Linked DNA regions of Homo sapiens: all the other regions are linked to region 3. Evidence: fine-mapped expression QTL. A gene starts in region 3. Each other region holds a variant in brackets. All regions are shown on one strand. Distances are from middle to middle. Region 1 has its middle 8.4 kb from the start of CEP97. Region 2 has its middle 120 kb from the start of ABI3BP. Region 3 holds the start of ZBTB11-AS1 (ZBTB11 antisense RNA 1).

Evidence for each region. PIP is the estimated chance that this variant, and not a neighbour inherited with it, causes the effect.
Region 1: its variant is fine-mapped to the expression of ZBTB11-AS1 in whole blood (TOPMed, PIP above 0.99).
Region 2: its variant is fine-mapped to the expression of ZBTB11-AS1 in uterus (GTEx, PIP above 0.99).

Annotation. Positions count from the first base shown.
Region 1 is chr3:101,714,872-101,717,636 of GRCh38, reverse strand. No RefSeq gene overlaps it. Among named protein-coding and RNA genes, the nearest start is that of CEP97, 8.4 kb to the left of the region's middle. The variant C/T (reference allele first, on the strand shown) is at 1,075.
Region 2 is chr3:101,116,095-101,118,859 of GRCh38, reverse strand. No RefSeq gene overlaps it. Among named protein-coding and RNA genes, the nearest start is that of ABI3BP, 120 kb to the right of the region's middle. The variant A/C (reference allele first, on the strand shown) is at 1,137.
Region 3 is chr3:101,675,338-101,678,102 of GRCh38, reverse strand. It overlaps ZBTB11-AS1 (ZBTB11 antisense RNA 1), which reads right to left and starts at 1,673. Exons shown (of 1, transcript NR_024407.1): 1 at 1-1,673. It overlaps ZBTB11 (zinc finger and BTB domain containing 11), which reads left to right and starts at 971. Exons shown (of 11, transcript NM_014415.4): 1 at 971-1,498. The coding sequence starts at 1,189. It overlaps LOC124906262 (endogenous retrovirus group K member 5 Gag polyprotein), which reads right to left and starts at 1,658. Exons shown (of 3, transcript XM_047449415.1): 1 at 1-1,658. RefSeq lists an enhancer at 1,279-1,833 and a silencer at 1,550-1,919.

The DNA of each region.
Region 1 (2,765 bases), 40 kb before region 3:
GTTCAAACGATTCTCCTGCCTCCGCCTCGCGAGTAGCTGGGATTACAGGCATACGACAATACGCCCGACTAATTTTGTATTTTCAGTAGAGATGGGCTTTCACCACGTTGGTCAGGCTGGTCTTGAACTCCCAACCTCAGGTGATCCTCCCGCCTCGGCCTCCCAAAGTGCTGGGATTACAGGCATGAGCCACCGCGCCCGGCAAAAGGTACTTACTGATTTTTAAATTGTTGCTAAGGTGGCACTGTCCAAGAGAAATAGGTGTACCTCATATGAAATTTTAAGTTAGCTAATAGCCATATTTTAAAAAGACAAAATATATTTTATTTATTCATATTAGCATTTCAACATATAAACAACATAAAAAATAATGAGATATTTTGCATTCTTTTAATTTTTTTTTTTTTTTTTTTTTGTGATGGAGTTTCACTCTTGTTGTCCAGGCTAGAGTACAATGGCGCAATCTCGGCTCACTGCAGCCTCTGTCCCCACCCCCCAGGTTCAAGCCATTCTCTTGCCTCAGCCTCCCGAGTAGCTGGGATTACAGGCTGTGCGCCACCACACCCAGCTAATTTTTGTATTTTTAGTAGAGATGGGGTTTCAACATGTTGGCCAGGCTGGTCTCTAACTCCTGACCTCAAGTTATCCGCCCGCCTTAGCCTCCCAAAGTGCTGGGATAACAGGCATGAGTCACTGCCCCCAGCCCCTAAATTTTCAATTGAGAATATAATGAATCATTTTTATAAAAGTTCTACTGCCTTTCAGAAAAACTTCAAAAGAGATGAAATAGAAACGTCAAGGATTTCTTTACTACTCTTTTAAACAAAACACAACTTCTTCTGGTTTATTTACTTTATTATTTATTTAGTTTACCTAAATAACCTGAAAAATATTCTTGAAATTAATTTATACTTCCACCTCTTTTTTTCCTCATATTTAGCTGATACACAGGGGGGAAAATAAAATGAATATTTTAGAATCTCATCTTGAGTTGGTTAATTCTTCATTTTTTCTAGCCCTGACATTGCATTCTTTTTTCTTTTTTTTTTTTTTGAGACAGTCTCCCTCTGTCGC[C/T]CAGGCTGGAGTGCAGTGGCGCAATCTCGGCTCACTGCAACCTCCGCTTCCCAGGCTCAAGCGATCCTCCTTTCAGCCTCCAAAGTAGCTGGGACTACAGGTGTGAGCCACCACTCCCAGCCATTTTTTTTTTTTTTTGTATTTTCAGTAGAAATGGGGCTTCACCATGTTGGCCAGGCTGGTCTCCAATTCCTAGCCTCAAGTGATCTGCTCGCCTCGGCCTCCCAAGGTGCTAGCATTACAGGCGTGAGCCACCGTGCCCAGCTGACATTGCATTCTATTTAAGATTCCTGCTTTAAGCATGTTCTGACTAGGCAGGATGCGGTGGCCCATGCCTATAATTCTAGCACTTTGGGAGGCCGAGGCAGGGGATCGCTTAAGCCCAGGAATTCAAGACCAGCCTGGGCAATATAGAGAGATCCTGTCTCTGCAAAAATTAAAATGAATTAGCCGAGTATGGTGGCACAAGCCTGTGGGCCCAGCTACTGGGGAGGCTGTGGTGGGAGGATTGCTCAGGCCAGAGTTTGAGGCTGCAATGAGCTGTGATCATGCCATTGCAGTTCAGCCTTGGTGACGGAGTGAGATCCTGTCTCAAAATTTAAAAAATGTTGTCCATCCTCCTGAAATCTCATTGGTTTCAGGGATGATAGGTTGGTAGTTTACCTCTAGAGGGGTAGTGGAAGCAATTATTCACTGGTCCCCCAACCTGTGTTGTTTTTCTCTCCCTCAAAGAGCTTCCTATTTGTCTAGCACTAATTCCTGACAAGAAGCCTGGATAGAACCTCATTATAACATGGCAAAGTAATTAACCCTCTGTCTAAATTCTGTGGAATTTTGTTGTTGAAATTCTTTGACTTTGGTTTTAAATTTCTTTTTGGTTTACTGACCACTTCTGAAAGACCATAATCTACAAAAATTGTGGCCCATCTTCTAGACAAGTGCACAGAGAACACACATAAAACTGTCAGTATATAACCTTTTCTACTGTTTGGTTTTTACTATTGTATAACACCTACTCAAAAGCATAATTCTTTCTGACTTCAGAGCAATTGACTTTTTATTTTATTATGGTTTCTGACTGTATGAGCAATATATGGTTTTTTTAACATTCAGGAAAACAAAATAATATGTAAAATACAAAGTGAAAGTTTCGATAATCTCACCCCTTAGAGATGCATTGTCTAATATGGTAGCTAATATCCACTTTTGGCTACTGAGCATTGGAAATGTGGCTAGTCCTAAATGAGATGTGCTATAAGTGTAAAATACACACTGGATTTCAAAGACTTACTTAAAAATAAGAATGCAAGCCCGGGCAACATGGCAAAACTCCATCTGTAGTAAAAATACAAAAACTAGCTGGGCATGGTGGTGTGTGCCTGTAGCCCCAGCCACTCATGAGGCAGGTGGGAGGATTGCTTAAGCCCAGAAGTTGAGGCTGCAGTGAGCTGAGATCGGGCCACTGCACTCCAGCCTGGGCAACAGAGCAAGACCCTCCCTCAATAAAATAAAATAAAATCACAGCTATTTGGGAGGCTGAGACAGGAGAATCGCTTGAACCCGGCACAGGGTGTGGGAGGGGAGTGAGCCGAGATTTCGCCATTGCACTCCAGCCTGGGCGACAGAACGAATCTCCGTCTCAAAAAAACAGAAAAGAAAACCAAAAAAGAAAATTAAGTGAATAAGTTCTT
Region 2 (2,765 bases), 560 kb after region 3:
TGAAGTAGTTTCTATTAATTGAAAGTTAGTTTCTATTAACTGGAATCAGTTCATGGAATTTTAGGTCAAGAGAATGCACAAAACTCCAAATCTCTTGCTAGGTATTACTGAGATAACCTTGGTAGAAGGCAAATCAATTTGCTATCCTATTTGAATAGTATTAAAAGACTGTTGGTCTTAATACATCTCAGATATTTCCAACAGTGTTATCTTTCTCAGTTCATTAGCTCTTTGGTAAAGGATGATGTGATACTGGGAACATGGAATTCCACAGACTTGAAGTAAAATTAGTCTGTGTAACTTGGGATATTTCATTTAACCTCTCCAAGCCTCAGATTCTTTATCAGTAAAACTAGGATAAATGTTTCATATAGGGTTACTAAGGGATTAAAATTTGCACACAAAAAGTGTCTGATACATAACTCATATATATACTCATAGAACATTTATTGAATGTCTTTATCGTTTAACTGTATGCCATGTTTTCTCTCATTTAATTGTCAAAACCCCAGGAAGAATAATTGTCTCCATTTTACTCAGACTTAGAGAAGACAGTTAGGCACTTGCCAAGTGCTTTCACTGTTGGAGATAGGCAAAATGACGCTCACTAGGAAGAACTCTAGCATGAGAAATACAGGCATAGTCACTGGGGTAAATAACAACAGTGCTGACAGCTGGATTCTGGTTGCCTCTTATCTGTCTCCAAGCTGATGCACCATGTGGCTTACTTAGGCCCTCAGTCACAGAGTGAGCATGAAAATGGAAGGAATCTGCAGAGCATATTAATGAATGAACAAATAGGAGTGCCCCTTACAGGAAGTAAGTAGATGATAGATGAAAATTTCTTTACACGACATGCAATAAGGCATGAGCAAGTACAGACTGACAAACAAGTCATAATATACAAGAGAACATATTTATAACTAGTAATTAAGGCATCCTAAAGTATTATACAGAATAACCTTCACAGATACTGTACCTTCCTACCAATTTCCAGAGAAGGAATATATGGCCTGACCAGGAAGAGAAACATCATGTTAACAGGCACTAGGGAACCTTGGCTGTGCCCTGGTATCCTTGTAGATGAGGTCTCGACATTGCCCCTAAAACAGCTGTAAGACTATGTGGAAGAAGGG[A/C]GAATTCTGGTCAAGTAAGACCCATCACTTGTTTGCCAGTAAAATGGGGAAGTGCTCATATTTGTGGAGGCTTCTTGTCATATGCTTCATGGTGGCTGAGGTTCCCCTTGACAGGACAACGTTAGGGATGTTTAGCAGTTCAGATCAAAATCTAACATTACCACAAGTCGATTTTTTATTGTGGTAAAACATAGCATGAAACTTACCATTACAACTTAAGTGTATAGTTTAGTGGCATTGAATACATTAATATTGTTGTGCAACTATTACCATCATCCATCAACAGAACGTTTTCACCATCCTTTTGATAGCATTTTACCCACAGTAGAGCTTCTTTCAAAATTGGAGTCAATCCTCTCAAAATTGCTGCTTTACCCCCTAAATGTATGTAATATTTTAAATCCTTTGTTGTCATTTCAACAATGTTCGTAGCATCTTCATCAGGAGTAGATTCTATCTCAAGAAAGCACTTTCTTTGCTCAAATATAAAAAACAACTTCTATATCAGCACTTGCTGCTTCACCTTGCACTTTTATGTTATGGAGAAAGCTTCTTTCCTCAAACCTCATGAACCAACCTCTGCTATGTTCCATCTTTTCTGTTGCAGCTTCCTCACCTCTCTGCCTTCATAGAATTGAATAGTTAGGGCCTTGGTCTGGATTCAGCTTTGGCTTAAGGAAATGTTGTGGCTGGTTTTATCTTCTATCTAGACCACAAAATCTTTCTCTGTATCATCAGTAAGATCGTTTTATTTTTTTTAATCATATATGTGTTCTCTGGAGTAGCACTTTTATTTTTTTCTGTTTTTTTAATACTCAATACTATATTTTTGAGATTTATCATATTTATTTTTCAAATCCAATTTATTCATATTAACTGTTGCACAGAATCCTATTTGTATTGCATATATAATCTATAGTACATTTATTTACCTGCTGATGAACAATTACGTTGTTTACCATTTTTTGCCATTACAAACAATGTTGCATTAAATATCCTTTTAAGTTTTCTTGTATACATGCATGATTCCCTTAGGAGCAGAATTGCTGGGTAATAGGTAAGAGAATTTCAACCATAAAGTATTATCAAATTAATCTCCAGATGATTATAAATTGGTATTATTTATAAAAATACTGTGTGTGTGTGTGTGTGTGTACACAGATACAAATAAAGCCTACCTGTAGAAGCCACAGTATGTAGAAATTGTTACTTTGTAATAAAACAACAGAGACAAAATGGAAATAGAAGGCCAAGATCTATGTCAATGCTCTTGAAGAGTACAAGTTTTAATTGGGGTGAGCTCTAAGACAAGCTCAAAACAGTTGGTTAAAACAATCAGACTCAACCACTGGTATTGACAGAGCCATATGTAAGTAGGGTAGGAATGCATATTAATTAATGGTGATTCTTAGAATTCCCTTCTTCAGGCTGGGCATGGGCAGAGACATCATCTCAAAGACTCAAAAAAGTCCCCTTGAGTCCCTCTCATCAGGCTCCAAAGCTTCCTCTTACATTGTCCATCAAATCTACTCTTCATACAAGTTCTGATTAAAGCATTTTGATTGTTTAAAATAATAACTTTTATTTTAACTGTTTATTTTAACAACTGTTGATTGTTTAAAATAATAA
Region 3 (2,765 bases):
CTACTTCTAGGAGCGTCAAAGGGCCTCACCCAGAGACTACAGACCCTCCGGTGGAGAAGTGTACTAGGCCGTGTCTGCAGCTGGAGCCCTCGGCCTGAAATGTTCTGGCTTTAGCAAAGCGGCGACAGTGTCCAACCCCAGTCCCCGAGGAGGGATGTCAGCCCTGGGCCCCTGTGAGCGCTGCAGATTCGTCCCAGGAAAGGGTGACCGGGGTCGCTGCTCCGGGATTACCAGCTAAATACCTGTATTAGCATCCTCAGCACGCACTGGGAGACGCAGCTCAAGTCCGCTCCCCTTCTTGCACCCTCATATATATTTGGTGCAAAATGGAGAACCTTTTCCCCTACGTTTGTGTAAAAATATATGTAAATAAAGCCTTAAAATAGTGTTACCGACCCCCTTTTCCACTCGCAATAACATTGACTATAAATGCTGATAATTCCAAAAGAATCTCGACTCTTCCTTGAGTAGTCTGGAGCTAGCAGGTGCAAGTTTAGAAACAATAACTCATCACTGAGGGAGGCACTGAAAATTTTATAACTGTTAACTGGAATCTAAATTTCCATGTAAATGGGCTGTCTCTGGTCCCGTGTCAAGAGACTAATATTTTTCCAGAAGCCTGAAAATATGCTTTTATGATGTTGGGAGTCTCAAACGTAAAAACGGACTCCTAACCCTCTGGATGTTTCGGCTGAACTCTCAACTGTCCACCAGCTCCCCCTACACGTGGCTCCTTAGAAAGCGTGGAAAAGGGAAAAATGAAAAGAGAAACTGCCAGGACTTAAGATGTCTGCTTAAAGACTCCCTCGAACTGCAGTGAAGGGTCCTACCCGCTTCCAAAATGTCCACCCGCATTCCTGACGTCACTGGATCGGCTCCATCAAGCCAGAAAACGAGAGTGCGCTCCAATCAGGGCTCAGTCCCCGCCCTTGCCTTGCGTCACTTCCGGTGGTGCAGCAGCCATTTTGTCAGTCGCCAGCGGATCCCGCGCGCTGGAGAAGTGCAGTTCCCCCTGGTTACCAACTCGCCCGCTTTTCCTTCGGACTAAGGGAGCCGTCGAAGAGCGCTCGCCAAAGGCGCAGCCGTTTCTCCCTACGGTGCCGCCGCTCCTCCTGCAGCCGCCCGTAGGTAGCGGGCCGTTTTCCTCACCTGTCCCTGACAGGCGCCCTCAGGGAGCCGCGGTCCGCGATGTCAAGCGAGGAAAGCTACCGGGCCATCCTGCGTTACCTGACGAACGAGCGCGAGCCGTATGCGCCGGGCACCGAGGGCAATGTCAAGCGTAAAATCCGAAAAGCTGCCGCCTGCTACGTGGTGCGCGGCGGGACTCTGTATTACCAGCGGCGGCAGCGGCACCGCAAGACCTTCGCGGAGCTGGAGGTGGTGCTGCAGCCGGAGCGACGCCGGGACCTCATCGAGGCGGCGCACCTGGGTCCCGGCGGCACTCACCACACCCGGCATCAGACCTGGCACTACTTGTCCAAGACGTACTGGTGGCGAGGTGAGACCTAGCCCGCGGCGAGGGGGCGGGCTGGCGACTCGTTGCCTGGGCAAGGCTCGCTGGCGAGGCCTATGCGTACCCACGAGTCGGAGGGTCTCGGACGCCTCTGGGCGGCGGAGCTGCTGCCAGGCGGAGCCGAGAGGGTGGGGGACGCGAAAGGAGCCGCACTTCCCACAGGAAGGAGGCCGGCGAAGCTGGGGGCGGGCCCTGGCCCTGGGTGGGACCAAGGGGGCTTCCCCGGAGGCCGGGCCAGCCGCGGGGAGGGGCCGGACGCCTGGGCTGCGCCAGGTCCGCCTCCTTGGGCGGCCCCTTGAGGCTGTAGGCCCCGGCCCTCTGGAGGTGGCGTGTGGCTCGCGGCAGTGGAGGCTGCGGGGTGCACGTTTTCGACTGTGCTGACGTTTGGAAGGGGGGACGAGTCACCCGAAGCCGGGTCTCCCGTTTCTTTAGTGCTGCGCTTGGGTTTTGGCGAGCGAGTATGAGCTGCTCTGGACACATTCGCTAGTGTTCCTCAAATTTTGCCGCTGCTGCGTAAATAAGGAATAATACAATTATTTGCAGAAGTGATAAGGAGTGATTGAGAAATCGCCTTGAGCGTTTTTTTTTAAGAACAAGAAGTAAATGTAAAAGATATCAGTTACTGTTTTTGTTGTTTGGTTTTGCGGGGGCGGGGTGTTTGAGTAGACACGGGTCTCGCCTCGTTCCCCAAGCTGGTCTCCATCTGGCCTCAAGCCATCCTCCCGCCTCGGCCTCCCAAAGTGTTGGGATTTCAGGCATGAGCCACGGCGCCCAGCTTGATATTCGTAACTCTGAATGTTTTAATAATCTTTCCCCTAATGATGTGAAAAACGCGTTTGGGAACTGTGTAGCATTGTATATACGCAGAAAAGGTACGATTACTGTGACTTTTTGATTGTCAAAAAATACAGCTCTGAAGTTACTTGACTCCTTGGGAACCAGTTGTAAGGGAGGATAGCAAGTGTCCTTGGCTTCTTAACCATCTTCACTCTCCACAGTTAATGAATATTCAAACTGTCAGAATTAGTTAATAGTTTATAGTCCCATTTAAGAAATTTTGTTAGGAACAGTGCTGTCACTCTCCAATATGGCTACAGAAAAGTTATTTCATTCAAATCTTGGTTACTTCGTCTGTGAATAACGAAATTACTGAATAGTTTCTAAAGTTCTTTTCGGTTTATAAACATCATCAAGTTTATTCGTTTACGAACTATTGGATAATCAAATTCTTCCATTTATTTTCCACTTTAAA